4 linked regions of the Homo sapiens genome follow. The protein of the gene in region 3 interacts with the protein of the main gene of each other region in a pairwise test. Each region holds a gene or a part of one and is shown on either strand. Other genes may lie near its edges.

Evidence for each region.
Region 1: the proteins of GRIP1 (region 3) and EEPD1 interact in binary tests that used the Homo sapiens proteins (3 or more experiments, as listed by UniProt).
Region 2: the proteins of GRIP1 (region 3) and MFAP3 interact in binary tests that used the Homo sapiens proteins (3 or more experiments, as listed by UniProt).
Region 4: the proteins of GRIP1 (region 3) and PSMB9 interact in binary tests that used the Homo sapiens proteins (3 or more experiments, as listed by UniProt).

Annotation. Positions count from the first base shown.
Region 1 is NC_000007.14:36,149,029-36,156,728, reverse strand, and holds the start of EEPD1 (endonuclease/exonuclease/phosphatase family domain-containing protein 1), read right to left. Parts: upstream 3,476-7,700; 5' UTR 3,055-3,475; intron 2,597-3,054; 5' UTR 2,405-2,596; coding exon 1,527-2,404; intron 1-1,526.
Region 2 is NC_000005.10:154,048,455-154,055,966, reverse strand, and holds part of MFAP3 (microfibril-associated glycoprotein 3 isoform 1 precursor), read right to left. Parts: intron 6,411-7,512; 5' UTR 6,245-6,410; coding exon 5,950-6,244; intron 3,048-5,949; coding exon 2,254-3,047; 3' UTR 1-2,253. UniProt on the Homo sapiens protein: Component of the elastin-associated microfibrils.
Region 3 is NC_000012.12:66,458,807-66,466,318, forward strand, and holds part of GRIP1 (glutamate receptor-interacting protein 1), read right to left. Parts: intron 6,617-7,512; coding exon 6,469-6,616; intron 4,288-6,468; coding exon 4,118-4,287; intron 1-4,117. UniProt on the Homo sapiens protein: May play a role as a localized scaffold for the assembly of a multiprotein signaling complex and as mediator of the trafficking of its binding partners at specific subcellular location in neurons.
Region 4 is NC_000006.12:32,849,077-32,857,191, reverse strand, and holds the start of PSMB9 (proteasome subunit beta type-9 precursor), read right to left. Parts: upstream 3,001-8,115; 5' UTR 2,963-3,000; coding exon 2,903-2,962; intron 1,055-2,902; coding exon 987-1,054; intron 1-986. Other genes in the region: TAP1 (antigen peptide transporter 1), read left to right, coding at 3,556-4,153, 4,690-4,804, 4,953-5,083, 6,043-6,248, 6,675-6,872, 8,074-8,115. UniProt on the Homo sapiens protein: The proteasome is a multicatalytic proteinase complex which is characterized by its ability to cleave peptides with Arg, Phe, Tyr, Leu, and Glu adjacent to the leaving group at neutral or slightly basic pH.

The sequences.
Region 1 (7,700 bases), on a different chromosome or scaffold from region 3:
GCTGGTCCCCAGGGGGGACCACACTTTAGAAACCACTGACATAATAAATAGGCAGGGGCTGCCTGGTTGGTCAGTCCCACTGGACCAACTTTTGATCCTAATCCATCACCCCCCTCCCAAATTGAGCCACTAGAAAGCATAATAGGAATTAAGCAGCTTTGTCTTTCCTGCCTCTCCCCTCCTCATTTCCCATTCACACGCCCATGCTGCTATGGATAAAGAGAACAATTATCAAGCCATTCTTTATAAATATCTCCCGGTGCCGAGTACAGCTCTCACCTGTGCACAAGAAGACTTTGCAGAAGGAGTGAGTTAGGCTGCAAAAGAGAGGACACAGCAGTGCAGGGAGAGCATTCAAGGGCTCCCCAGTCCAGTTCCCTGACCCAGTGTGGAGTCCCTCTCTCAGTGATGAGAGCATGCCACTGGGTCAGTGCCAAGGAAACGTTGTGACCTGCTTTTCTCCTCACTAATTTTCCTGGTGATCTGCCATCATGCACTGTGATTTCCCGCTGAGAGTTCACTTCGTGTCACCAAACTGCTGCCCCCCCGCCGCCAGCCTCACCAACAACTCAGTGCAAAGGAAATCAACGAGTAGCCACAAACACTGCACCCCTGGTGGGTGGCAGGGCAAAACGCCTCAAGTCCAGGATCACAGCTCTTATGACCTGGAAGGGACCATCACAAATATTTCTTTCTTTCCCACACCTGATTACATTATACAGTTTGCTATTTTACTAACAGCAGGAGTTACTGCCAAAATAATATTGTTTTTGTTTATGACGAGGCTAACAGAAATTCCTACAGAGAGCAGTATTGTGAATAACATAAACGCTCTGTGGTAACGGCCTATCCTACTGGACTCTTTTCTTTGGTTTAAATGGGGAAAATCCGGCCAATTTTCACACACACACGTCAGCTTGCTTTTTTCTGGCTATGGCACAGAAAAGGTTACACACATTTTGGGCTACAATTTTAGGGCTGAAAACCAACTCCAGGTTAAATAAGGAAAAAGAATGGAGAGTGATTCATTCATAGCATTTTGGTAAATATAGACACTTGTATGTGTTTGCAAATACTTGGCCTTTAAGATGATTTTGTGTGCACAAATAGGCATATTTGATGGAACAAATATGATTTTCCCTCCCATTAATAAACAAAATCCAATGAGCTCTTTCTCACATGCGAAACTGCACCAGTTCCCATGCTCTGAGTGCCTGACTTGGTGTAGACCCAGCATCCTCCAAAGCAGTAACAAAAACACAACCTCTGCTTACCCCAAAATTATGAATCAGTCTCAGATATCTCACACTCAAGACATGGGTCACAAGCCCAGCTGTATTCAGAAAATTCTGGAGCAGAAGGACAGCCCATTCTCAGGTGACGGTATTGGCTGAGGCTTCAAGAACATTGATTAAAAACTCTTGCACCCTCCCTACCCGCAAAAGAATCCATTCATTTGCATCCATAGATGAGGTCACGCACAAGTTGCCTTCACACCCAACACCCATGGTGGTTCCTGTCCTCACCTGTTTTCCAGGAGTGTCATGCACACCACCTCTCGCACCCCGGGGTTGTTGGCCTTCTCCACGGAACAGCCCTGCAAGTTCCAGGTGGCCAGCCTCAGCACAGGCCTCCCATCCCTTGTGCCTCCAAAGGCCTCCACGGACGGCCGAGTGGAGATAATCTGGGTGGGCCCCCCTGGCGGCAGGTCCAGGTCCTCACTCTGCAGGCTCAGGGAAGTGGGGCTCGGGTGAGGCTTGGCGGTGAAGGTCAGTCCCCCGTTCGTGTGGGTGGATGGGGGCCTGGACCTCTCAGCAAACACCTGGTGCCGGATCCTGTCCAGGAAGGCGGCATTGATACCATCCATCCTCACTAGGTCCTCAACGCTGCGAAAGGGCCCATGCTCACGGCGGAAGTCCACGATGCTGAGGGCCATTTTCTCCGAGAGGCCTCGCACGCTCATGAGCTGGGCCGGGGTGGCTGTGTTGATGTTAACACGTGGGGTGAGGGGCACAGCTGTGGCCAGGTGGTGAGGCTGCTGCTCCGCTAGCAGGTCCCGCCGCAGGGAACTGGGAGAGTGCTGCGCTGAGCTGCCCTTGCTGCTCACACAGATCTCAAACTTGACCTGCTCCAGCTTGGTGGCGCCTACACCACTGACCAATGCCAGGTCCTCCACCTTCTTGAAGCCACCGATATACTCTCGGTACTCCACGATGCTGCGTGCCACGGCACGCGTCACCCCAGGCAGGGTCATCAGCTCCTCCTCCGTGGCAGTGTTGATGTTGAGCCGCTCCTGATTCACTAGAATGTTGCTGAAGTTACAGGCTGCGCTGAACTTGCGGCTATGGGACAGGTCCGAGGGGTCCCTGGGGATGGAGCGGTGGCAGCCCAGGGTGCTCCCCATGGTCCGCCAGGATCAGGCTCCCGGGAAGGCCGCACCACTGCAGAAGAGCTCTCTGGCTAGGGAGGAAGCCCAGTAGGCCGTACAAGCACAGAAAAACGGAAGGTGCAGGATTCAGGGACTGAAGAGGTTACTATAGACAAACACCGAATCTTCCATGCCTGGCGTGTCCAAAATTACCTTTCACTTGGCCGCCTAGAAAATAAATCAATAAACATAGAAACCCATTGAATTAAGAAATTTGCATTAGCACCCCCTACCTAGTGCTAGAGTTAGTAACCAGGAGTCGGGGACTGGTGGCTGCCCGTGAACCCCTAAAAACGCAGGCACAATGAGGCTAGGCCCATGTGGATTCTCCTCTAGGGACGTCCGGGTTTTATCACACTGGAGTCCAAAAAGGCTACGAGCCGCTTCTCTTGGGAAGAGACCTATCCCCATCAGCCTCATGCCTCTCCTCCAGGCCTCTCTCAACTCTGACACTTGGGTCACCCACACTTGGGCTCGCGCAGACGGGGTGGCCACTCCACCTCCCCCACGCTCCGCATCTGACACAGCGCTACCTGCAACCTGGGAAGTCCGTGCTCCCCGGAGCGGGCACTGAGAAGGGGCTTATCGACCCCCCACCCGACCTGCCGCGGGTCCCCGCGCCCCACCTCTCGGCCGCTCTGCGGGGCGCCGGTTCCTCTTCCACCTGCGGCTCGGAAGCCTGAGCCCAGCCCGGGACAGCACGGGCCCCCTGCCTCCAGCCTAGGCGTCCGCGCGGGTGTGGGTCACTGGTCAGGCCCTGGAAGCCGACTACGCCGCTTCGGTCTGCGTGTCCCGGCTCTTTCTATGGGAGAAACTTAGCATCGCTCTCCCAGAGTGAATAGAAGCCGCAGGGCTGCTCGGAGGCGGCGGCAGCGGCGGCGAAACCCGCCGCCGAGGCTGCACCGGGGCTTGCGGCGGCGCCGCCGCAGTTGCGTTTACCCCGGCAAAAAGTCCTGCGCCCAACTCGGGCGGGGATCCGCCAGAGCCAGTCCAGACCCAGCACCAGCCGCACGGCTCCCGCTCGCAGTCGGTGTCAAAGCCAAAGTCCCGGCCGCGCCGCGCCGCGCCGCTCGCGCCTCCGCAGGCACCGCGGCCACGCCTCCTCCGCGCGGCAACTCCTCCCCGGGACTCCCGAGGGCACGTGGGGGAGGGGCCCTGGCGCGGGGCGAGGCCTGGCACCAGTGGGTGGAGAGAGGAACCCGAGAGCGCAAGGGCGGGCCTGGAGTGGGAGAGGCGGGGCCATGGAAGAGGGGGCGGCATCAAGGCTCAAGAGGGTGGAGAACGAACCAGAGAGCGCGAGGGGAGGCCCTGGCGTGCGAGAGGAGGAGCCATGGGTGTGGGGGCGTGGCCTGGCACAAATGGGTGGAGAGCAGAACCCTGGAGCGCGTGGGGCGGGCCTGGAGTGCGAGAGGCGGGGTCATAGAGTGTGGGAGCGGGGCCAGGGCGCGATGGGGTAGGAAAAGCGGGGGCGGGGCCATGAGCGCGGGGGTAGGCCCCGGGAGCGCAGAGGCGGGACTTAGGGGGCTTAAGGGGCGGAGCCGGCGCCGTGCCGGCGAGGGCGGGTCACAGGGAGGCTGTCCTAAGTCAGCTGCCCCCGGACCATGGTTGCCGCCCGGGGCCTAGGACTGGTTGTGCCTGGTAGAGGCTGTTTAGGATTGCCCGAGGCGAGATCTGCTCAGCTGCTTTTCGTCTGTCTTTGAGGTGTGGGGATGAAGGCCGGGGCAGTCCCTGAGAGTGCATCGCTGTAGGTCCAGGGTCTCACGGAATTTTGCAGAACGTTCCAGAGGAGACTGAATGGGATCGTCTTAATTTCTGTCCCCACTTTCGGCCTTTTCTTTTCTTCCACCAGTGTATTACCTTTGCTCCGCTCAGAGAGATGTCCTCTAATAACGCCAGCGACGCATTGTGCTCCTAGCAGAGGGCACGCACCACCCTCCTGTGTGTTCGCATAGGTCAAATACAGGTTTGCTCCTTTGCACATTTAGCGCTGTGAGTAAACAAGGATAAGTTTTTGTAATATTAAGTCTAATCATTACGAAGGAGGGAAATGGGGGCTGCTTCCCAAAACCCAGAAGAGTTTTTGCATCACACTGCTAAATGACAATTTGGTTAAAGATTAAAGAGCCCTCTGCATTATAGTGGATACCTAGAGCTAGAGTATTCGATTAAGCAAATCATGCGGTGATATCGTTGAATACTTTGACCCTGGACGTTTAGTGTTCTCTGAAGTTTCATCCCCAACCAATGTGACCAGTGCATCTGGTTTCAATTCCAAGGACTGGGTCAGCAAAAATAGTACCTCTCACAGGCGGAAGGTACTTTGGTTGTAAAATTAGCGGCAGCCCAAGTTTGGAAAATGCTACTGCCTTTCTGAGGCACATTCCCCTGCTATGTATATTGGTCAGAAAACCAAGTCAAACTAGCTTAGACCAAAAAAAAAAAAAAAAAGGTCGGGGGGAAATTTTTGGTTCCTTGTTGAAAAGTTAAGGTAAGGAATCTTACCTCAAGTCTGGTTGCATCCGACCCAAGTGATGATGGGGTCATTAGGACATGGCAGGACTGCCTCCATCTCTGGCTCCACGGTTCTCTTTATTGGCTTTATTTTTAGGCAAGCTATTTGCACTTGATCGCAAAAATGCCTTGCTACCTACCATCATCTCCCACCCAAACACTGGGCTACATTATGCCACGCACTGAAATCCTGGTGCGGTAAGGAAAAAACAGTTTAAGACAAGCAGGAAAACAGAGAAAACTCTTCGTTGAGCAGAATGCCTTGATGCGCAACGTGGCTGTGGAAGCACAGCCGTGGAGCGTGGCTACTTGGGCTGGAAGCAGAGAAAACATATTTTATCATACAAACCAGGACACTCTGGAGGTGAAGAGAGGACTCTATTAATAATATCCTAGAACAACAGAAATAATCTGGTTTTATTCCCCATAAACCTAGCAAATGCTCCCCTTGGTATAAATGAAACCAAGCGTTGGCCAAACCAAAGTGCATTTAAAAACACACATACATACACCCCACAAAAACATGCAATGAGATGGTTAACTTTAAAACGACTGATTGTATCCAATGTTGGTGAGGACGCAGAGCAATTGAAATGGTCATACATTGCTGGTGGAGGTGTAAGATGGCACCACTACTTTGGAAATCAGTTTGGAAGTTTCCTAAGAAGTTAAACGTATACTTACCATATGACTCAACCAATCTACTTATAGGTATTTACCAAAGAAAAAGGAAAACATGAAACCCAGAGACTTGAATGTGGATGTTCATAGGAGCTTTGTTTGTTATAGCCAAACACACACACACACACACACCCACACACACACACACACACACACACACACACAAAGCAAAACAACAAGAAACTCAAATCCATCAGTGGATGAATGAATAAATTGTAGTATATCCATACAATGGAATGCTACTGAGCAATAAAGACAAACTATTACATGACATTGAAAAGTCTCAAAATCGTTATACTGAGTGAAAGAAGCAAGGCAAAAAAGAACATACTGTATGATTCTATTTATATAAAACACCAGAAAATACAAACTGACATACATATAGAGAAAGCAGATCAGTGGTTACCTGGGGATGATGGGGAGGGAGGAATGGATTTTAAAGGGCACAAAGAAACTTTGGGGGCTGATGGCAATGTAGTTTGAGAGGTGATAGTTTCATGGGCATATGAATGTCAAAACTGACAGAATCGTATACTTTAAATATGTGCATTTGGGTGTACTTCAGTGACAACAGCTTTGGAAAAATCTTCAAAAAATGAAAAAAAATTTTCTCTGAATCTAAAAAAACATAGGCCTTGTTTTTGGGGAGAGTGGGGTACGTGAGCCTGGGTGGAGATGAAAAGGTTTAGGAGGGGGATGAAGGGGTCCAAGAAGTTGAACAGACAGCTAATAGAAGAGAACATTCCCCAGCTTGGCTTGGGGGCTCAGGAAAGTGGGCGACAGAGGCCTTTAAACTTACGGCTAACAGTCTATTTTATCTGCTGTGCTATTTCATGATGCAATCCTCCCACCCCTACCCCATGCACAGACACTAAATTTTGTAAGATATGTATGTAATGGCCATCAATAAGTTATGTTTAGGAGAGATAAAGTAAGGGAGCTGAATCTTTCTGGGTAAATTAAAGACAGAGAGAAAAAGGGCAGCTAAAATATGAAAGATGGGTGGGAGAAAGAGCCAGGATTCAGTGGAAGCAGAAAATCAGAATACGAGGAGACCCAGGGAAATACCTGACTTTCAAGAATCCTCATTGAGATTGGGAAGTTGGCTCGGGTCCCATTTTACAAGGAATGAGGGTTTTATTTGCATTTTATTATTTAGGGCTCTAGCTGACAACCCAGTTACATGACGATGTCAAAGGGCAGAAATTATATCATTCCAGCCAAATACCACATCCTGTGGCCACTGCCCCTTACGACATAGTTCTCACCTGGGGCCTGGTCAGAGAGGACCAAGGTCATTGGCCTTTTGCTTCTTAGTTAGCAGTTTTAAAGTAAATGGCGATTTAGGGAAAGGGAGAGGTGGCAGATGACAAGAAGGGAGAGCATTTGTGTTTTCAGTTTTACCACCCATAGTGCTAGGCACTGGAAGTACAGTGAGGAGCACACTCCTGACTTCTATTCCCGGAGCTGATGGTGCAGCAGGACTGCAGACATGAAATCAGTAAGACTAGTGCCTGTTGAAATAAGGGAGAGGAAGAGAATATGGATGTGAATTACAAGTAATTTCTGCTAGGGGACTTCCCGGGAAGTGAGGGTCAAGATGAGATTTGAAAGCTGAATAGGGAAATGTTGCCCCAACACACAAGACCTCAGTCCTGGCAAAGCAAGCCCCAATGCCCCAATCAATGAGCTTCAGTCAGGCTATTGACTTGGCACCAACTTGTGTGCAGTGGCCAAGCTGGATGCTGTCCTGAATTATATCAGTGTGACAAGGCAACGTCTCCTTTAGTGTGACCTTAACAGTGGATTTGTCCCTCTTTATCAGAGTAGGCTCCCTGTGTTCCCAAACTCAGGAAACTCCAGGCATTGGCAGCCCACTTGCGCATTCTACATCAGATCCTGCCTCACTGGGAGTTGTGGCAGAGGATGGCCAGACAGACACCATGGACAGACACCATGGAGAGGGGCAATGAACAAAGCTTCATCTTCTACACACAGGTATGTAATTCTGCTTTCTCTTCTGTGCCTGTATATAGACACTCAGCCGGTAATCCCACCACCAGGAGCATTTTCGTATATT
Region 2 (7,512 bases), on a different chromosome or scaffold from region 3:
TGAAATCTGAGGGATGTTTAGAGGACTGACCCCCAGACAAGGGATTTAAAATGTTTTTTGGCCAGGCACAGTGGCTCATGCCTGTAATCTCAACACTTTGGGAGGTAAGGCAGGAGGATCATTTGAAGCCACAAGTACAAGGTCAGCCTGGGCAACAAAGTGAGACCCCCATCTCTACAAAAAATAAAAAAAAATTAGCCAGGAAAGGTGGTGCACACCTGTAGTCCTAGCTGCTTGGGAGGCTGAAGCAGGACGATCGCTTGACCCCAGGAGTTGGAGGCTGCAGTGAGCTATGATCTTGCCACTGCACTCCAGTCTCAGTGGACAGAAAAAAAATTTAATTTTTCCAGAGAAAAGGGAAGGGAAAAAGTGTTCCATAATCTAGGATATGTTCAAGAGCCTTTGCTCTTATAGTCAAATATATAAAAACAATTTTCCTTAAAGAAATACCAGTCTATGAGCCAAGGCAAGCTTTGGCTAAATGATTGGTTAGCTTTTATTTGGCTCTAGAGGTTTCCATGGAAACAGCCTGAGAGACAGAAAAGGCAGCATTATCATCTTTATCCATGATGCCATCTGATAAAACTGCACATTGATTCATTCATGCTATTCAGAGCAGATGTATTACTTCTGATAAGCCTGGACAAAGGGAGGCATGAGTTTTATCCCGTCACGCTTTGAATTTCCTGTCTTCCCCTGTTTGAAACCTTAAATTAAAATCCTGATAAAACCTCCTCTGAACATTTCCCTCAGGAGCCTCTAGCTGAAGTAATGCTTCAATAATCAGAAGTCATATGAAGAAACGTGAAGCCCCAAATGGAGCTCCACTGCCAAGTTCTTAAAATTATATGGCACCACGCTTCCTGTAGCTGAAGAAATTGTTCTGAAGAGTATTTACAATTCCATTATATCAGATCTCAGCCAGGCAAGAAATGTCATCATAAGTGTTTATTATATACAGTTGAAGCAGGTGGCATCATCCATCATTTTTCTTCCTCTTGATGTCTAGATCAGTTGTGTGTGTATTTTAATATAGTAACACACCCTCACAATTATCTAATCTTATTTCAGGTTAGTGCTTCTTGGAAAGGCTACAAAAGCAGCCATAGCTCAGAATTATGTATCTGAAGTAAACAAAAATAAAAACCTCAACAACAAAATATTAACCAAACAAACAAGATAAAGACGCATGCAACCTATAGCACCATACCTAAGACCACAAAGGGCAGGAGGGTTGACAGAGGTCTTAAGAGGAATCCAGTTTTGGGTTTTCTCCTAGGATGAGATCCCAAATATAGAACCTATTTGTAGAGTCCAATACTTTTAAAAAGGGAAAGCCTGAGAAATTCTGTTAACAGAAATATGAAAATCCATGATTTTCCAGAAGACAGATGATTTGACACTGTTCTTATTCTAAAAGCATCAAAGACGTTATACCTTAGAAATAAACTGCTCACTTTGGAAGATCAGTTAGGCAATCCCTGCCAACCTCAATGAACTAAAATGATATCTCAGTAAGTTAAAAATATGATACACCCCCACCAAGGACCAATTTACTCATGGAAAGTAGTTTACAGAGCAGTTAGCTCTCTGACATCTGTATAACCCTACAGACATGTGCTACATTGAAAAGATTCAATCTTGCACATATCATTATATGCTCCACATGGCAAAACATCTGAAAAACACTCAGATGTTTTTCAAAAACCTCTGTGCATTATGACATTGGTGTGGAAATTTAGATCTCAGCTTAATCCTTTCCAAAAGAAGCGAGTAAAAGTCCCGGGAAAGGTTTACTTAGAGATGAGTGAAGATTCTGGTAATTTAAAGGTGATGGGTTAAGAAGCTATAGAGCTAGAAACAACTTCAGATCTCACCTAATCCCTCATCTTATTGACGGAAAAACTGAAGTCCCAAGATAAGTATCAGATCCAACCAATGGAAGAACTGTGACCAGAAGAGAAACCATGGGACTCTTAGTTCAGTGCTTTTCCCCATCATGTTTATCTGGGGCTCCTTTAAATCTTAGCATGCATAATTTAATAAAGCTCTAAGGAAAATGACTGAAAAGTATCAGAGAGGAAAAATGCTGCCTTCTAATGAAGACTTTGGCAATTCACGTTCTGATGTGCTTAATATTAACAAACGGAAAACCCCAGTCATCTTTTGGCAAAAATGTTACTTCTTCTAAGAAACAGGTTCCTTTTCTGAGAGCGAGCTGATTTTGTAGGTACTGGGTTACAGCATTGTAGGTTACAGCTGACAGTTTTCATATGCCCCATCTTTGTAGTTACAGTTAGATTCTGCAGATCCTATATCATCAGGTGGACTGAAATGACTGCTGCCTTGAGACTCTGTATCAATACTTTTGGTTTCTGACTGAAGGTGGACAGAAACCTGAACTGCTATTTCCTGGCCTTGTTCATTCAGAGAGCCATCATCTGAATCTCCTCCTGGTGAATTACTCCGTCCCATCTCTGGGTTAATGACATAGATGCCACCTTGAGCATTCAAGGCAGGTCTCTCTTTAATTCTTTCACCCAGGTCATCAGGGTCGTCCACTCGCACAGCCTCAAACATCTCCTCAACAAAGGCTCGACAGTTTAGAATAAGAGGTGGAAGAGGGACACTTCTTGCCAGTTCTTCAATATAACGAGCAAACTCCATGGTCTTAAATTGTGTGACTTTGGCGAGCTCCAGAGTTTTGGCTGAGGTAATGATGGGGATACGTTTTGCAATCTCAAAGGCCTTCTGAAGTTTCTCAGCCCCTTCAGTTCTAAAGAACTCATTGATAGCCTTCTCAGTCTTGCGAAGATGGCTGCTCATCATGCACAGCCGTGTGACATTCAAGATGAGTGTGATTGTAAAGGCAATCAGGCAAACAATCATGTAATAGACACTCATGTCTCCCGAGGTGAAGATAACACGTAGGGTGACAGAGTAGGAGGCACGAATTGGAGAGGTGACGAAACAGGTATAGAGCCCACGGTCATCAAAAGCTACATTGGTGATGTTTAGGAAGTTATCAGAAACCAACCACTTTCCACCTGATAATTGAACAGAAATGAAAAAAAAATTATAGCAAAAAGATTACTAAATATGCCCGCTGCCTTATCCATATTCCACCTCTTTATCAAAGTACTTTAACTTAGCTGATTTGTTAGATTCTACCATTTGTTTAAATCATGTAAAAAAAGGGCAGACTGTGAGGTCCAGAGTCAGAATTTAATTAGCTTGGATCTTAAAAGGAAATCAAGATCTTCCTTCATGACACTAATAATTAACATAGCTTCCTTTTCACTGCTAGACTTCAAAAGCCTTTCTGTGAAACAGGTATGTCTATAAAATGCTAAATGACTAATCATAAAAAAAGCTTATAGTTTATACATATGTGTCCGTCTACATCACATTGCAACCAATACATTTTCATATACTATGAGGGTATGTCTCAGAAATATAAAACAATGGTTTAAAATAACAGTATTTTAAATTTTTATGAGTAATTTTTATTTTCTTCTAACTGTGTTTGCTCACTTTCCATAGTGAAATTATATAACAAGAAGAAATTATTTTAAAAAATCCTAGCAATTTAATGCATTTGTTGAAGTAACTGCCTAATCTGGTATGCCTTGCACATATCAATTTTTTGTTGTTGTTGTTAAGAAACTTTTGTTGATTTTCTGGCAAGAGTAACTGAAGCACAGGCCAAAAAATACATCTCACAAGTCATGGTAAATGAAAAGCTTGGCAAAAAGAATAAAGTTGCCCTTAAGATGCCTATGCTTCCATTTTCAACCTAAAACATACTGCCTCTCTTCCACACGTGAAGGTATTTTCATTCAGGGAACACGTATATAGAAGTATACAAGTGTAAGAAAAGCAAAGCATATTGACTACGCATCTTGATTCACATCCTTCAATAACTTGGCTCTGACTGCATAATTCCTACTTTTGTGATACATTCCCAAAGCACTCTGTGCTTTAACTATGAAAGCCATTCAGAGATGGGAAGGATGGGCTAACCTGCAGTGTGGGGATGCATTCCAATGACTAGAGGAGGTGTCCCAGAGGAGGTTAGCGGACTGCTTGTTAAGCATTACTTGAGTGCCCAATCTTCAAAATCTCTTTCATCCCCAAGATTCTATGGTTCTGGATTATTTTAGTGGCACATAAATTAGTAAGCACTCTGGATTTTGTCCATTTTCATCATCATCCAAACTTATCTCAATCCTATAGGTATTAATATATTTAAAAGCCATCACTTCACTAATACAAAAAGAGGAAAACATGTAGTTATGAATATAGCCATTTTCCATAAGCTTCTGTTCTATGAACTTAGAGCTATGAAAACGACACCACTTGAATCCAAGGTATGATGAACTACAAAGACTCCATTCATCAACCATTGCACTACAACCACAATCTAAACTCTCTAGCTCACTTGCTGATAATAGCTCAAGATTTATGAACCTTATACTAGACTGACATGCTCTTTAAACTCCTCTCACTTGAGATTCATAAAATTTAATACAATTTTCCAGAGCTGCTGCTGAAAGCATCAATGATAGATGTTAGTGGTTTTCAAAGTAAAGGCAAAATAGAAAAATAAAACTGCCATTCCACTTGGCTGGTCTTGTTTTAACCTAAGGCTTTGTTTATGCAGTCAGTCTACAGTGATGACACTGAATGAATAATTCAGATCTCAGAGGTGTTTGGTCAGGATATCGTAGAGCCCAGAGAAGATAGGAGTCTGGTTCAGTGGGTTCAAATATGGAACCCCAAATCATGTTCAAAGTACACATTCCAGGTATCACTCTAATTCAATAGTTATGTATTTTAAACATGCTGATTAAAAATACCCTAACAATTCAAACTCTTCAATCCCTTGGTGACTAGTCACTCAGTCTATAGATTAAAATAGTGCATATGTCTGAAGGAAGTATCACCTGTCTCCTTTTGTGTTTTCCAGCCTAATATGAATAACCAATATCCTTTTCTATTTCAGAAGGCTACACTATCTTCCTAACAAAAAAATTTCTGAAAGTGTAGCTTGTGAGGATCTTAGAATTTAAGCTTCATCCCTTTGGCTTTTCATGGTGATTTCTTTTTGAGGTCCATTATAACTCAAGTACTCATCAAAAAGATCTTTATAACAGAACACTGGTTAGGAGTAGTCTGGATTAAGATATATTCACAGATCCATGAATAGGAAAATTAAATAAAAATCTGTCAAAAAGTAGACCTTGAACACACTATGTTTATGTGATTTTTAAGACATAAACAAAAAATGCAAAAAAAAATTTCTCATTTCCAGTAAATTAAGGTATAGAATACAAAAAAAAAAAAAAAAAAAAAAGAGCTGGAAGGGCTTACAAGTTCCATAGTGCCCTTCTAATTCTCTGAGACCTGACGTCAAAGTTTTATGCACAGATTGATACTCATTTTCAAAAATGTCCTGGATTTCCTCTAAAGTTTATAGTAACTAATTTCAGAGCAAAACTTTTTTATTTATAACAAATTTTCTTAAGTCTAGCCAAAAACCTTCTGGATGTATTCACACAGGGCCACCACACTGTACTACTGACATAGTAGTCTAGGTGAAGGGTGCTCCCAGAGTTGTGTTGTATACCACCTGTACAGCTGTATGCAGCAGCCCTGATTTACTCTACCTTCAATGAAGAAGAAAACCAACTGATCAGGAGAGAAAATAGCTCATTGTCATCATGTGAACATCTTTTAAATTTAGAATGATTCTTTTTTTTCTTCTTCTGGTTAAACAATTATAATTACTTTGCATTTTCTGATAGGTACAACACTCCAGACCTTTCAAATGTTTTAAACTATTCACCTTGGCACCTTATCTTTGAGACTTTTTGTTTAACGTGTTAAAAAATAAGAAGACAGAACAGGAAATGAGTAACCTTGATTAATTATACCCTGACCAATTACCTCTGCTTCTGCCATCCAGTTGCTGTCCTTTTGAATTGTGCCAATGGACATCTTCATAGTGACTGGCTGTGAGAAGACACTCAATTGAAACGCTAGTTCCCTCTTTGGCTATGATGACATCATCATCCGAGTGGGAACTTGCTGAGAGTTCAAAGCTTGAGGGAAAGGATGCATTGTAAGAACTACGATTTGCTTCCAGTGAAACCATTTGGTCGAAGTCCACATCTTCCAAAACAAAAGCAGCTGGCACAATAATACTTGCCACTAAAGTGAATAAGCAACAATGTAGCTTCATGGGAAAATGGGACAAAATCTTGTTTAGATTTGGAGAACTCAAAAACTTCTACACTACAACAAAAGCACAGCGGGTAATTTATTGCTTGGTAGAGAAATTTTCCAAACAAGTGGTAGATCCAGTTATATTTTCTAGTCTTCAAGATTAAAAGATGTGAGTAGAGAACCTAAAAGAAAGCCAGATACAAAGTTTAACCAACTGAGATTCATAATGGGGTGAAAGTGCGTATGTTCCAGAATGAATAGATGTTAATTAGAATAATTGGTGCTGACATTGGGGAGTAATTAGATGGAACAGTACCTAAAAATCTCACACAGAGACAGCAGAAAAAGCAATGAATTGGTAAATAGCAGACCTAGATTTTGGTCCTAGCTTTGCCACTAACTAGCTGTACGACCTTGGCAAGCAGCATTCTCTCTGGGTTTCTGTTTTCTCCTCTGTCAAATAAGGGACTGGATGAGATAATCTCTAAGGACTCTTCCAATTCTGAAATGCCATGATTCTATTTCATTCTGACAAATTTTATGCAACAGGGAGCCAATGAAGGCTAAAATATTTATCTTAATGATCTTTTATTTCAACCTGCACCATTACCATCTGTTGTTATAATGTAAATCAACTGGCATATCATAATCATAACCATGGAGCTCAAAATTTGAGTAATTCAAGTATGAAGATATGTTACATATAAATAATGCAGGGACACCTGAGGTGGGTTGTTTTAACACTGGAAAGAAAGCTGCACTTACTGCATACACATAAATAGAGTTATTGACTTCTAAAGCTATGGAACCTCCTTCATGGGCAAGAACATTAGACAACAGAATTTTCTTTTAATAGTTTCTCCAATACGAAGAGACAAAGTACAGTGTATTTAATAGTTTGTAAGCATACCAAATTTCTAGCTCAAACTCTGTAAACTAGCTAAGGGAGGAACTGACATCTTAAGTGTCTAGTTAGTAGAAATGCAAATATAAAACTACAGGGACAGATTGTTAGACACATTTAAAAGAAGAGCAAAATATCTTGAATAAAAGGCAAAATAACATCCTAGTCCAAAAGTCTATGTATTTATGATCACCTTCCTGGTAATTTGACTCCCCCTTTAAGCCACCAACTCTCAAAGAAAAAATTCAACTTTTATTTCTATAAAATATGGGATGAAATGCCTAGCTTTATGTCTTATAAAGCACCAAGATAATTAGTTTTGGAAATGACATTTACTCTCCTTTATATTTATATGAAGGCTGCTTGATCACAGAACATAA
Region 3 (7,512 bases):
AACAAGTCAGGTTCCTTCCTGCCTCAAGGCCTTTGCACTTGCTGTTCTTTCCCCAGTTGTTTGTATGACTGCCTCCTTCTCATCATTCAGGTCTCACCCGAGGTGCCACCTCCTCAGAGAAGTTGTTGCTGATCTCCCTGGCTGAAGGAGCTGCCCTCCCCATGCTATCTCATTACTGTTTTACATTCTTCATGGTACTTATTGCTGTCTGAAACAGCTTTATTTATTTAATATATTTTTAATGTTTGTCTGTCTGTACTAGAATGTGAATTCTATAAGAGTAGGGATATACTTTGCCTGTCTTGCTCACTAAATATATCCTAGCAACTAGAACAGTGCCTGGTATATAATGACTAATACATGAATGAATGAATAAACAAATGCATGAATGAACGGGAATATCAGCCAGAGTGTCCATGTGAACACTGCAGCAGCATTTTCCTTGAGACAAAAGAGTATTTATTGCAGGAGATGTCCCTAATGGATTCTCTCTCACCATCCTCATTCTACTTTGGGTGTACAAGAAGACATTTCAGCAAGACGCAGTTATTACTGTGTTTGGCCAATTTACAACCACCGACACTTTAGCGTACTTTTCACAAAGTACCATCTGTGTTTCAAATGAAGCCAGGGTACGGTGAATGCACTTCGGGATTCTACACCCACCTTTTGACCCGCTTCTTCATTGAGAGCTTTGAAAATTACTGGGCATTTGTTAGGACTGTACAGCACAATTAATAAGTCAATAAGGAAGATATTATTTACCAGCTATTGCTTTCTCAGACTGTGCCAATTGCTACAGGCAGGTTAAAGGTCATACCATTTACCTTGACTTTGAATTACTACTGGGGATTAAATCTTCATACATATAAAATAATTAAGAGACAAAAATGATATAAGATAATGCACAAAACTGTATGCCATGGATGATGAATGCAAAAGGTGTTGAACAAATAATGTAGGCCAGAGAAGAGAGCTGCTGCCTATTTTGAATGTACACTCCAAATGTTTTCTGTTTTACAGTGGTGTACTTGATAGGCAAGTATTTCCAAAGTTTAATAATAAGATGTTACATTTTTGGCATGTCCTGTCATTTTGCAAAGAGCACTTATAGACATTCTCTCATTTAATAAAGCCAATAATTGTAGCCTACTTTCACTGATTACTTATTATATACTAGGCACTGTGCTAGGTGCTTTTTCATGGATTAGCTCAGACAATGTTCACAATATTCCTTTGAGGCAAGTATTATTATGACCCCCATTTTACAGATGAAGCAACTGAGGTATAGAAAAGTTGGGTAACTTGCTTAAGACCCCACGTGGTGGAGTCAGAGGTGAAGCTCTGGACACGTGATCCTAAAGTCCCCGCTTCAACCACCAGACATACCGCCTCTTCCTATGGGTATGTCTAAGTCCCTTGTTATGGATAAGAAAACAACACATTTAAAATATTATGGTTCTTGTATCATTCCATGGTGACGTCACTACTGCAGTCTCAAGAGATATATGGCCACAGAAGTTACTTTTCTTTCTTCTTTCTCTAATTGCAGCCTCTTACTCTGTTCAGGATGTTCGAGAGAGCAGACCACAGTGGTTCCAGGTTGCCCTGGAGCTCTCAAATGGAAGGTCCTCCTGGTACTGAATGTGTCGAGTCTAGTGACTCTGGTCACATTTTCCTTTCCAAAACGTCAGTTTCCTTCAATCCAATTATGTCTCCTGAAAACCCTCAGTGGGAAAAATTTCTAACCTCACTGAAAACTCATTTCTGTCAGCTTCTTTAATGCTGCTATTTATCAGTGAAAGGCATAGCTAATCTCTTATCCCAAGTTGAGATATTCATTTCCACACTGGCCTGAAAACTCTGTGGTATATGCTTTACTGCTAACACAATCTGGAAATTTGGGAAGTGTGTTGAGAGACACACTGTTCAGGCATCAGAGATCTTGAAAAAACAATCAGAACTTTCTTGTGGAGAAAGGGTAAAACTATGTAAAACTCCACTAGTCAAAAATTTGAGAATTGTAAACACAATAATAATTTTTTGTTTGTTTTTCTTCTTTACTATGATTTAATTATGTTTAGGAGCCAAAATTTATTTCCTCTTGGAAATCCAAGTCTGATTTTAATGTGCAATATAACGGAAACACCTGCTTGATAAGAAAGACAGTGAACAACTTTCAGTAAACGTAGACGATGGAGTCAGAAGTGGAAGCTAGAATTACTTAAACTTCCTATCAGTTTCCTATCCCTGCAACACAAACGACATCAGGTTTTCCACAATAAAGGCAAAAAATTTGTGCTTAGTCCATATATTTTAGTGTATAAATTAAACTCAAATTGCCTTGGCAGGTTAAAAAATTTAATATTCCATGAGTTGAAAACACTTGAATTATTTATGAATTGTATATAGGGCCAATTAAAGAAAAATAAAAGAGATTACTAAAGATGCTAACATTTTAAAAGGGTCTGGTATGCATTTCCGATTCGCTGATACCAGAATTTAGCAAGCAAAACCCCATGCTGAGAGAGCACTACACAGTGTACATTCTTATGGCTACTGTGCTCCAAATCCAATGATGACTGCCGATTAATTTAAAGAAACTTAAACAGCTTCAGAAATCTCTCCTCTCTGCCAGAGTGCAGGAAGGGCCCACGGGGCCTCCTGATAGGAATGGTGTGCATCCTTGTGAACGGCACCTTCCTACAGCTGTTTGCATTGCTATTCCAATACTGTGATGCTGATTTTCTTTTCATAACCTGCCTATGCTGCATCATTTCTCTACTCCAATGTGTAAAATTAAAATCTGATAAGGGTAATGTTGTACTAGAGATTTTCATTAGCTTCAGGGCTGTCTAAGCTCCATTTAATTAAAAAGGTTGCATCCAGCTGACTGATTTAGTATGAAAATTATCTGGTCCCTCTTTCCCCCCGCCCCAGACTGTGGAGAAGTGTAGTGCATTTTAAAAGGTGGGAGACACAATACAAATGACCCCCTCATAAGCAAAATTTCAATTTCAGAGAAAACTGCACTGTGTCTAAATATACAGAAATGCATTATCCTCCTTCAGGCCACCCTGACAATACTAGTGAGGCCTCTAATTTCAAGGAGTACAAAGGAATGGTGTTTGCTTTAAGGAATAGGGCAGGAGAGGGAGTCGGAACAAATATCCTACTGGAAAACTTGACTTCATTTGATTTGGGGCTCAAAGACCCCTTTCTCATACCAGGTTTTGCCTAAAGGTGCCTAGGTAGATGGTATAAACACCCAGCAAATGTATCTGTGAATTTCAAGGGAGTCAAAATACAGATACCTTCAGCTGACACTTTCTATTGAATAAATGGAGTTAAATATTCTGATTCTCCCAGACAAGATGTTTGCTCAGACAGGTTGTTCTCTATCCTAAGAAAAAAACTCCACTGGCAAAAGACATAATATATTGTAAACCAAGGCTTCATATAACTGGTTCCCTCTGATTCCTGCCAAATATTTGAAGGTTCTGCTATTAAAATCCACTTTACTTATTTATTTTTAAGTGAGAGCTTTACTATTTGCCTTCATTGGCCTTCATCTAGGCTGGAAATTCAAAATGTATACCAGGAAGTCAAATTATTTTCCTTGTCTGCACATTCAATTTGCACCAAAGACTTTTTTAAGAAAAAAATATCAAATAGCACTAGCCTGAAAATTTTTTCCTCGATGTTAGGGTTTCAAGCAAATTATGTGTGGCTTAGAAAAAAGACTTTGGAAGATGAATTAGAGTAAACAAACATAACCTTGTTTTGAAAAGAAATGATGAGTCTGACCAACATGGTGAAACCCTGTCTCTATTAAAAATACAAAAATTAGCTGGGCATGGTGGCGGTCACCTGTAATCCCAGCTACTCGGGAGGCTGAGGTAGGAGAATGGCTTGAACCCAGGAGGCAGAGGTTGGAGTCAACCGAGATCATGCTACTGCATTCCAGTCTGGGGGACAGAGTGAGACTCCATCTCAAAAAAAAAAAAAAAAAAAAAAGGCAGAATGAGACCCAGTGTCTTTCTGCTGTCTAACTCTGCTAGAGGGAGCAACACTGTGAGGGCCAGAGAAAGAGCTTGATCCAGGTGGACCATCTCACCATGGTCGGGCCCCTTTAGGGCCAGCCGGGTCTGATGATGGGGAAGGATCTCAAGCTTGACCTGGTCAGTGGTGTTGGCCAGGAACTGGGTTGCTTCTGCAAGTGTACAGTACTCCATGCTGGTTCCATCGATGGAGAGGATGTGATCTCCCACATGCAATGCGCCACATCTACGGAAAGGAGAAATACTCGGTAAGAGGCAGTGCCTTCCTCTTTGGAATCTGACTTTCATGTCCTTCATAGTTAAAATTTCACAGTTTTTCATTTACTTAAAATAAAAGAAAAGAAAAGTTTGAGTGTTATAGGAAACACCATCTGCCAAATTTTAAGTACCTTGAATATGAACAAGGAAGTAAAACCTTGTGGAAAATAGAGAAAAATTCAACGAAATGTTTTCTCTTGTCTTTCTTTAAAAAAAAAATCTTATTTTGGAGTGCTTGTGTGGAAAGTTGAGGGAAAGCGAGCAAGAGGAAAGGGAAAAACAGGAAAATGTTTCCCCTGGACTTTTGTCTGTGTTTTTTTGTTCTAGGCTTTTCTATCTATAAACATGAGTGGGTAAATCTTCAGAATCTCAAACATGACTCTCAGAATTGGAATAGGGTCTATTTTATGTGTAAAGAAGAATAACTTGGGGAGATTTCAGTAATACTTCCTTGGAATCCTCACACAAACTCCAAGATCACCAGTTCTTTATTATTATGTTATTCTGGAGTTGAACATGTATTAGTATAAAAGCTCTTGATAATGGTAGAAATTATGCAGGAGTCAAGTGAGTAATAAAACCAGGCCTGCATGGTGAGTCAAGGGGAAAGATGGGGGCAGGGAAGGGGCTAGCTGCTACATCTTGCTGAACTCAAGAGCTGGCTACTGGATGAGTTAAGAAAAGCTAGCGCAGTCGTCAGCATCCCCACATACCAGTCAAGTGAACAGCTCCTTAAACTGGTTACCCCCTGTGGAATGGGAAAAAACAGAGGGAGAAAATTAAAGCATCCTGTGCCATTGAACTGCACAACACCCCTGGATCAATGGCTGTCACTGATAAGGACTGAATGTTGGGTAAGACCACAATGGAGATGTAGACTGACCACTACGGGGGGTTGCTGCAGTTCACTGCACCATGGCTGGAGGTGGAAAGGCAGGTTGAGGGGCACGTGGAGAAGAGGGCTGGAAACATACAGGGGAGACTGGTCATTCAGGTGCAGTATATCTATAAATTCCCAGTGTGAATAGTCTACGTCTCAAGACAAAAGCATTTCAAGTCATATCTTCCAACTAAAAACATAATTCCACATTTTTTGCACTTGGAGTGCTTTAGCTATGGGAGATGAGGTTTTTCTTACCAGGAGCTGTAAAATAATTAATTAGATGGAAAGGTAGTCTTTTTTTATCTTCCCCTTTTACCTTACGAGTATAAAATATTAATTAGAAACATGAAATTTCATTTTTATTGTGGCATTGAAGCGAATGATGTTTTAAGACACCCTCGAAGGTTGTAAAATCCTAAGATTAACATGCTATGAGAGTATAGGACTTTTTAAAAGTATTGTAAAAAATATTTTAAAAAGTATTGTTTTATTTATTTAAGAAACAAAGAAATCAGATTTTATGGTAGCAGGATTTAATTGTCAACAATTCAGGAAAACCCATCACTGCTCTGCATGGGGTTTAAGAAAGATCTACTCAGCTACCCTACATTAAGAACAGGCTAGTGCCCTAGGACACAGTAAGAAAACTTGCTTAGTTGCTTGATTTTTTTTTCTATTGCTAAAGGCCACACCAAACATCTGGATGACGTGAAGTGACATCATGGGGTGGCTGACACATAGGTGAATTTTTAAGCCCTGTAACAGTAACTTGCTTCTGTGTGTGAAACCTGTATAAACTGGCAAGAGAACTGTGTGTGTGTGTGTGTGTATGTGTATATGCATGTGTATATGTGTATTACAAGTGTGTGTACATATGTATGTATATATATTTAAAATTGCACACATGCAATTTTGTAAAGGGGCACTTTCTTTCTTTCTTTCTTTCTTTTTTTTTTTTTGAGATGGAGTTTCACTCTTGTTGCCCAGGCTGGAGTGCAATGGTTCAGCTCACTGCAACCTCTGCCTCGCGAGTTTAAGTGATTCTCATGCCTCAGCCTCCCGAGTAGCTGGGATTACAGGCACCTGCCACCATGACTGGCTAATTTCTTGTATTTTTAGTAGAGATGGGGTTTCACCATGTTGGCCAAGCTGGTCTCGAACTCCTGACCTCAGGTGATTCACCCGCCTCGGCCTCCCAAAGTGTTGGGATTACAGGCGTGAGCCACTGCGCCTGGCGGAAAAGTAGGCACTTTCTACAATACTTACCTGTCTGCAATACTTGCAGATTTGATTTTGTCTATGACAATGACTTGTTTGTTACAGCACATCGAGGTAGTTAGGGCAACCCCAAGGCTGGCACCAGGAGTTTTGGCAACTTCGACTAGTAGTGGCCCGGATGCTGTTGCCACAGAGTCTGTCAAAGAACAAATTTTAGAAAACAAAACAAATAAAACAAATAAGCAAAGAGACAAAAGAAAGAGATGAAGAATATTCAGTTTGGTGTTAGCCTGTTAATTTTATCACTGAAACTTAGATTTCCCTCCATATAATATCCCCACAGCCAATAATAAATTCATAGGGCACCTCTTAACACACCTGTTCCATTCAGCTTGTATTGTGTTAATGTATGTGTAATGTTCATCTCTTCAATGAGATTTTAAGCTTCATGTCACTTGGGATAATATCTTATGTATCTTTATCCCCTCCACAGTGCTTGGCACAATGCCGAGCATATACTAGGTCTCTCAGTAAAGGTTTTTTAAATTAATTACTTAATTCAATAAATATCTTAGCACCTACCAGGAATAAATAGACGGATGGATGAATGAATGGATGAAAGGATGGATATAAAAAAGAAAGGAAGGAAAGAAGAAAGAAAGGAAGGGAGGAAGGGAGGAAGAAAGAAAAGAAGGATGGATGGGTGGATAAATAAAAGAATGACAAGAGGGATGGGAGGATGAATGGATGGGTAGATAGATAATCAGAAGAATGGATGGATGGATGATGTCTCTAGCCAAGTAGTAGGAATGTTACACTAAGTTGAATTTGTAAAGCTTAACTTCATATATGCTTTATTTTTGGCTTGGAACACTCTTTGTTCCTTCAACTCCTTCTAACATTTGCATACTCAATGCCAACATCAATTCCTCGGGAAGCCTAAATTGTAATTTGGTAAGATGCTTTTCACATGTGCTTCTACAGCCTGCTCTATTCCTGCTGTTGTAGCATACATCTCACTGGTTCATAGTGGCCAGTACGGACGACATGCCTGTGTTCCTTGCCAGATTGTAAACATGCTTGAAGGTAGAG
Region 4 (8,115 bases), on a different chromosome or scaffold from region 3:
TCTCACTCTGTCACCCAGGCTGGAGTGCAGTGGATCAATCTTGGGCTCACTGCAAACTTCGCCTCCCTGGTTCAAGTGATTCTCCTGCCTCAGCCTCCCGAATAGCTGGGATTACAGGCACCCACCACCAAGCCCAGCTAATGTTTGTATTTTCAGTAGAGACAAGGTCCCAACATGTTGGCCAGGCTGGTCTCAAACTCCTGACCTCAAATATCTGCCCACCTCGGCATCCCAAAGTGCTGAGATTATAGATGTGAGCCACTGCACCCAACCAGAACTCAGGAATTTTTGAGGGTGATCATTCAATGTCTCTCAAATTTCTTTGACAAGAGAATAGCATGAAGTTTAATGCTTGGATTAAAGCAGGAGGCAAATAATCATCTCAGATATTATTAATCACTGCAGATGTTAATCAAAATTAGGCTTATTTTTCAGGCTTAGATTTTATAACAAAGCAAAAAATGCTAAGGTAAGAAAAATATGCCTCATCAATTTTCTTTGCTATTAACAATCTTGAGAGAGTTATGTTCTATGGAACATAATGTCAGTAATATTGACCTAACCCCATATACTCATTTTGCATGTGAGGAAATTGGTTAGGAGTGGGAGAAGAGACAAAATAGTTCAATATATGGTAAATGAGAAACCAGGTATCTGCTTGACAGAATCATCTTTTTGATCCCTAAGCACAGATGGAAAGAAGACCCTCAAAAATCTATCTCCTGTCCCCCTCTCAGACCCTATTCCTTTACTCATCCCTGTACACTACTGGGACAGGTCACATACACATTCAGACCCCAGATCCTCCTCCACAAATTCAGAGACCCAAGCACCCACCAAATAGCTTATCATAGTGGCTTTTGGGGAAGGTCAACTCCATTCCTCCAAGGCTCCAGTTTGCCAGTCTTTTCATGAATGGGTAAGGAAAGTGTGTATTTGAGGCCATTAGCTTCTTTCCAAATGCATACATCTTCACTTTTACTCACCCTGCAGACACTCGGGAATCAGAACCCATCACAACGCCCCCGTCAAACTCCACTGCCATGATGGTGGTCTGCAGAGACACAGAATATGGAATGTCAGGGCAAGAACAGCCTTGATGCCCTCATGTTAGAGAAGAAGAAACATTCCCAGAGAGGCGAAGTGACTGGCTCAAAGATTACACAGTAACAGGCCAGAGCTGACTGTCAGTACAGGCTTTTTTTCCCTTCATCTTTCCACTTTCTCTATTGCTTCATCCGGCTGCAGGGGAATGCCACAGCCCAGCTGTGATACAACACAGAAAGAACTGTGTCCCTAAGTTCCAACTTGCCTAGTGGAATCCTCTCCACTGTAGAGAGGTGGAGATGAGGCTCCTACAGGTAGAAGTGAAGCAGCTCCGCAAGTGAAAATTATCTCCAACGGAAGGGCTCATAGTATGTGCAGATGTGGTGTAGACCCAACACAGAGTAATTGACTATGATCTTGGGAAACAAGGTCAGTCTATTTTTTTTTTTTTGGTCCACAATCCTCCACTCTCACCCCCCATTTCATCAGAAGTGAGCTCTTCCAATTTACTGAACATTGGAAAAAATCGAGGAGGGCAGTGGTTAGCATGGCCAGGGGCAAGGCAGGAGAGAAGCAGCAAGGAACACATACAGATGGTTGAAAATAAAAGTTTCAGTTATGGAATTTCCGATCAAGAGGTAAATACATATCTCAGCAGCCAGGGAGGTAAATTTGTACCAAGAGATAATTTGACTGAGAAGTTTAAGCTGACTTTTCCAGGTCAAGAAAAGAATCAAGAAGAAGTGAGGGAAGATAAAGCTACATTTATTCTACTATTGAGTTGGAAGGAGCCTTAAAGATCCTCGGTTCAAATGAGGAAACCAAGTCACAGAAAATGCAAACGACTTATGCAAAGTCACACAGAGTTAATAGTAGACCTGGGACTAAAATTCAGGTCTAACTCTTATCCCTTGTTTCCACTTCTACTTCCTACTTGCCACTGCTCATTTGGCAGTGAGGGGAGATTTCCCAAATTATAAGTGGTTTCACTGTGTCTTTCTTACCAGGCCGTAAGTTACTCTGGCCCCAAAGGACGCTCCTCTGAGTATGCTTTCCGACGGACCGACTTATCATGAATAGAGGGTCAAAGAACAGGGTTAACTTCAAGTTAGAGGCTATTCCTCTCTAACAAAGCCGCCCCCAAGCCACGAGTGGTGGCAGTAGTCCAGAGCAGAAGCCAGCCAGCCAGTCTTGGGGCTGCCATCTGCCCCAGGCGCCCATCCTAAGCAAAGTCCCCCCAGTGGGCACATGGGAGTGGGCAGGGAAGACACAGGGAAGGGAGTAAGGCAGCATCTGGGCCAAGGAGAGGCCTTCCTGGGTCAAGCTAGGGAAGGGCATCACTAGTTAACACAGAACGCCCATTATCAGTGCTTGGGCTAAGAGTTGCCCAGTGGCAAGTTTATCAAAAGTCTGTGTGATGAGTTGGTCCTTCTCAATAAGTGCCTATATTTCCTTCTCCCAAGTGCTGTTCTACTTCACCCAGGGCACCATTTCCTCATCTCTTTGCACCATCCCCAACCCCCTTTCTTGATTTAACCAGCCCCCACTGTCCGGGACCAGAGTGAAAGCGAAAGCGCTTTAGAGTAGCTTCCCGTTGACGCTTCCAGCTAAGAGTCAAAGCACCCGCTTTTTCCACCAGCCTCGCGTGCCTGTTCCCTTCACGGACACTCTAGACGACCCCCCTCAGAAAAGAAATACTCTATGCTCATTGCGGGTTGCAAGCGCTGGCTGCTACAGGCGACCTCCCTGCGCTCCCGTTGGTCTCTGCATTCACTTCTCCGCGCGCGCTTCCAGGGTCCCCTGGCCGCTGCATCTCCTCCACCCCTCTGCCAACCCTCAAGCCCAGACCCATTACCCCGGTGTGGACTTCTCCCGCCCGGGGTAAGTCCCCGGTTGGTGCTCCCGCCCGCAGCATCCCTGCAAGGCACCGCTCTCCTCGCCGCCTGGGGCACTGGTTTCCAACCTGGGACAGCGCACAACGCGCAGCCGACAGCCCCGCCCCTTCGCGGCGCCGCCAGGAGGCGCCTGGGTGCTGCGGGGCTGCTTTGCGCGCGGCGCTAACGTGTGTAGGGCAGATCTGCCCCGAGACAAGTGACGAGGCAGCCCCGCCCTGAGGCTGGGGTGGGAAAACTGGTGCAAGTGGAAAGGCAGGAGGCAGGGAGAGGCGAGAAGGGTGTGCGTGATGGAGAAAATTGGGCACCAGGGCTGCTCCCGAGATTCTCAGATCTGATTTCCACGCTTGCTACCAAAATAGTCTGGGCAGGCCACTTTTGGAAGTAGGCGTTATCTAGTGAGCAGGCGGCCGCTTTCGATTTCGCTTTCCCCTAAATGGCTGAGCTTCTCGCCAGCGCAGGATCAGCCTGTTCCTGGGACTTTCCGAGAGCCCCGCCCTCGTTCCCTCCCCCAGCCGCCAGTAGGGGAGGACTCGGCGGTACCCGGAGCTTCAGGCCCCACCGGGGCGCGGAGAGTCCCAGGCCCGGCCGGGACCGGGACGGCGTCCGAGTGCCAATGGCTAGCTCTAGGTGTCCCGCTCCCCGCGGGTGCCGCTGCCTCCCCGGAGCTTCTCTCGCATGGCTGGGGACAGTACTGCTACTTCTCGCCGACTGGGTGCTGCTCCGGACCGCGCTGCCCCGCATATTCTCCCTGCTGGTGCCCACCGCGCTGCCACTGCTCCGGGTCTGGGCGGTGGGCCTGAGCCGCTGGGCCGTGCTCTGGCTGGGGGCCTGCGGGGTCCTCAGGGCAACGGTTGGCTCCAAGAGCGAAAACGCAGGTGCCCAGGGCTGGCTGGCTGCTTTGAAGCCATTAGCTGCGGCACTGGGCTTGGCCCTGCCGGGACTTGCCTTGTTCCGAGAGCTGATCTCATGGGGAGCCCCCGGGTCCGCGGATAGCACCAGGCTACTGCACTGGGGAAGTCACCCTACCGCCTTCGTTGTCAGTTATGCAGCGGCACTGCCCGCAGCAGCCCTGTGGCACAAACTCGGGAGCCTCTGGGTGCCCGGCGGTCAGGGCGGCTCTGGAAACCCTGTGCGTCGGCTTCTAGGCTGCCTGGGCTCGGAGACGCGCCGCCTCTCGCTGTTCCTGGTCCTGGTGGTCCTCTCCTCTCTTGGTAAGGGGAACGCAGGGCAAGAGGGGAGGACACAAGGGGACTGGGACAGGAATCAAAGGTAATTGTCAGTAAGGTAGAGTAGCGTGGGTTCTGGGAAATGTGGAGCAGGAGAAGGACTCCTAGCGTGGGTCTTGGAACACCACTTCGGTGTAGAAGAAACGGCACTGGACTGGCGGGGGCCAGAGGTTCTGGGCTCCATTGCTGACCGGGTCTTGATTCTTTGGGCCACGCCGGAAGCGGGGAAATCCTTTGCTCTGGGGCCGAAGGGCGGGGCATCCTCATCTCTAACAGGAGGCTTTTCTACTTCATGATCTCCAGCCTTCCTAATAAAATCCTGAAAGTTCTGGTAGAGCAACCACAGGGTAGTGAGTTCCAGGGCAGCCTATTTAGGTTCGGGATTGAGACGTCAGTGTTTCCTTTCTGCTGATGCCCTCCAGGATAATGGTGAGGGGGAGGAGGCGTGGTGGGGCCAGTCTGACTGGAACTGACCTACTTAGACTTAATATTTGTGCGTGACCTCTCTTCTCTTTCTCCAGGGGAGATGGCCATTCCATTCTTTACGGGCCGCCTCACTGACTGGATTCTACAAGATGGCTCAGCCGATACCTTCACTCGAAACTTAACTCTCATGTCCATTCTCACCATAGCCAGGTCTGGGGGCTGAAAATGGGGCACCCTGCAAATGAGGGAGTTGGAAGTTGGGGCTGCTGTCCGAAATGCACTTATATGGGGATACCTGGGACCTTCAGTCTGTTCCCTGAACACACCCTGATCCCCTTTTTTTCCGGGTTCTTTATAGTGCAGTGCTGGAGTTCGTGGGTGACGGGATCTATAACAACACCATGGGCCACGTGCACAGCCACTTGCAGGGAGAGGTGTTTGGGGCTGTCCTGCGCCAGGAGACGGAGTTTTTCCAACAGAACCAGACAGGTTTCTCCTGAAACTCTTTCATTATACGCCATGTACTGTTCATATCCTCATACATCTGCTTTGATCTCCCCCCTCCCCGCTCTCTCTCTCTCACACACACATACACACATTGTTCCTTCTCATTCTTGATATACCCTCTCCCTGTCTCTCTCTCTCTGTCTCTGTCTCTCTCTCTCTCTCTCTCACACACACACACACACAATTGTTTTTCTCATTCTTGATATACCTCAGGAGCAAAATATTGTCCTCCTTACCTTAAGAAAAACCTAGAGTTTTCATCTAGCATTTTCTTATAAATCTATTCCTATGTATCCTTAGATAGAAACCATAGAATTTCAAACCTGGAAATTTTGAGCTCATAGAGACCAACTGCCTCATCTGACAGAGAAGGAAACTGAGGCCAAGACCCTAAATGCTGAAACTGCACAGTTACATATGGCTAGAGACACACTTGGGGTTAGAACCCTGGTCTCTTGAGTGCTCCACAGACTTCGGCATGCTTTCTAGCAGCACTAGAAGCTGTACAGTTACATATGGCTAGAGATAGACCTGGGGTTAGAACCCTAGTCCCAGTGAGTGCTCCACAGACTTTGGCATGCTTCCTAGCAGCACCCTCCTCCTCCATCTCTGTTATGTGACCAGTTTAAGCTCTTCCTGCCTGTGTGTATAGCATGGGACATACAGGTTCTCTAGGGAACAGAAAGCTTTCAGGAAAATGGAAATTCACATGTGCATTAATGACTTTATAATTAAAATGAAGGTCAGGCCTTTCCTCTTTAACACTCATCTTCCCTGCACTGAGATTTGCAGACCTCTGGAGAACCCTAACCTTGTTTCCTGCAGCCTCCTTAGAACCCCATGTTGACACCCCTGACCCTGGCATCCTGGCTCATTGTTAGTTCGTCTCATCACTTGGAACCTGTCTGATTCACCTCACTCTCTTCTCCCCAACCCTGCAGGTAACATCATGTCTCGGGTAACAGAGGACACGTCCACCCTGAGTGATTCTCTGAGTGAGAATCTGAGCTTATTTCTGTGGTACCTGGTGCGAGGCCTATGTCTCTTGGGGATCATGCTCTGGGGATCAGTGTCCCTCACCATGGTCACCCTGATCACCCTGCCTCTGCTTTTCCTTCTGCCCAAGAAGGTGGGAAAATGGTACCAGGTATGTTCATGGAGTTGGCCCGCTCTACACAGACCCTCATCTCCCAGACTTGGCAGACTCAGTTCCTCTCACATTGCTTTCAGTCCAGCTTTCCTGGCACCCTTACTGATTCTCCATCTTCATGGAACACCCTGTCCCTGTGGTCCATGTTCCCAGGTTGCTCAACATTAACCTCCATACTCTCTGGGTCTTCTTTTCTAGCTTCTCCCCACAATCTGTCTTTAAGAATTTGATCCCCAACCCGTTCTGAGTCATTTTCCTCTTCCTCGTATTTCTTTAGCATCCAAGGGGCATAGCTGTGTCTCTTTCTCTTTTCTCCTTTTCCTCTGTCTCTTCTCACCTTTAATTTCCAAATAGGTAACTCAGGTATTAGTGTCCCTGATGGTTTGCCAACCCGTGTGACATCTCTTGTCCATGTATCCACAGTTGCTGGAAGTGCAGGTGCGGGAATCTCTGGCAAAGTCCAGCCAGGTGGCCATTGAGGCTCTGTCGGCCATGCCTACAGTTCGAAGCTTTGCCAACGAGGAGGGCGAAGCCCAGAAGTTTAGGGAAAAGCTGCAAGAAATAAAGACACTCAACCAGAAGGAGGCTGTGGCCTATGCAGTCAACTCCTGGACCACTAGTGTGAGCACCTGAAGATGAATACCCATTCCCTTGTCCTTAAGATGCCGTGACTCCATTCCCATTCCTATGACCCTGCTCCCACTCCTCCTTTACTGGGAAATGGTTGGTTCAGTATTTTCGTCCTAGCAACCTGAGGCTCAATGACTCTACTCAGTGTCCCTAGCCCCCTCCCTCTCTTTAAAGATGCTAGGTGGCTTCCTTTCAGTATGGTACATAAAATCCACCCAACCATGTGGATTGGAGAGATGCGTGTCTTCCAGTCCTAGGGCCTTCCTTTGCCTCTCAGGGGAAGTGCAGGGCGCCATAAATTCTTGCACCTGGGACTGCTTCATGCTGGTACCTTGTAGATTTGTTAGTGAGAGTGATGGGAATAGTGGAAGCCAGGGATGAGGGACATCTGTGATGCACTGGAAAGAGAGCTACGCCAGTGATCCGAAGATCCTGGCTTGATGATGCAATTTACTTGTCTTGTGATCATGACAACAAATTTACCTTCTCTGAGACTGTTTCCTCTTTATTTATTTATTTGTTTGTTTGTTTGTTTATTTTTACTTATTATTATTATTTTTGAGCTGGAGTCTCGCTTTGTCGCCCAGGCTGGAGTGCAGTGGCGCGATCTGGGCTCACTGCAAGCTCCGCCTCCCGGGTTCACGCCGTTCTCCCGCCTCAGCCTCCTGAGTAGCTGGGACTACAGGCACCCGCCACCACGCCCGGCTAATTTTTTTTTTTTTTTTGTATTTTTAGTAGAGACGAGGTTTCTCCGTGTTAGCCAGGATGGTCTCAATCTCCTGACCTTGTGATCCGCCCACTTCGGCCTCCCAAAGTGCTGGAATTGCAGGCATGAGCCACTGCGCCCGACTGGTTGTTTCCTCATTTTTCAAAAATGGAGTGATATAACCTTCTTTATAAGGCTCTTCATGTATTAGCTGACATCACATGAATGAAAGCCTTTTGTGAAGAGTAAAATGCTCCCCAGACAAGGTGATAGTGGTGATGGTGGTGAAGATAACTGTGACTTGCATGATGTGCATTGAGTCAGACTCCATGGGGTCTCTGGTTCATTCTCCTGTCTGCCTATTGAGCCTGCCGATGTCACTTAGGAGACAGGGACTTGATATTTCCTTCAGGTTAATGACTGCGGTTCTTTGTGTCCCCTCCAGATTTCTCTACCTCAGTCCCTTTTTTTGTGGTCTCTTTATAGATTTCAGGTATGCTGCTGAAAGTGGGAATCCTCTACATTGGT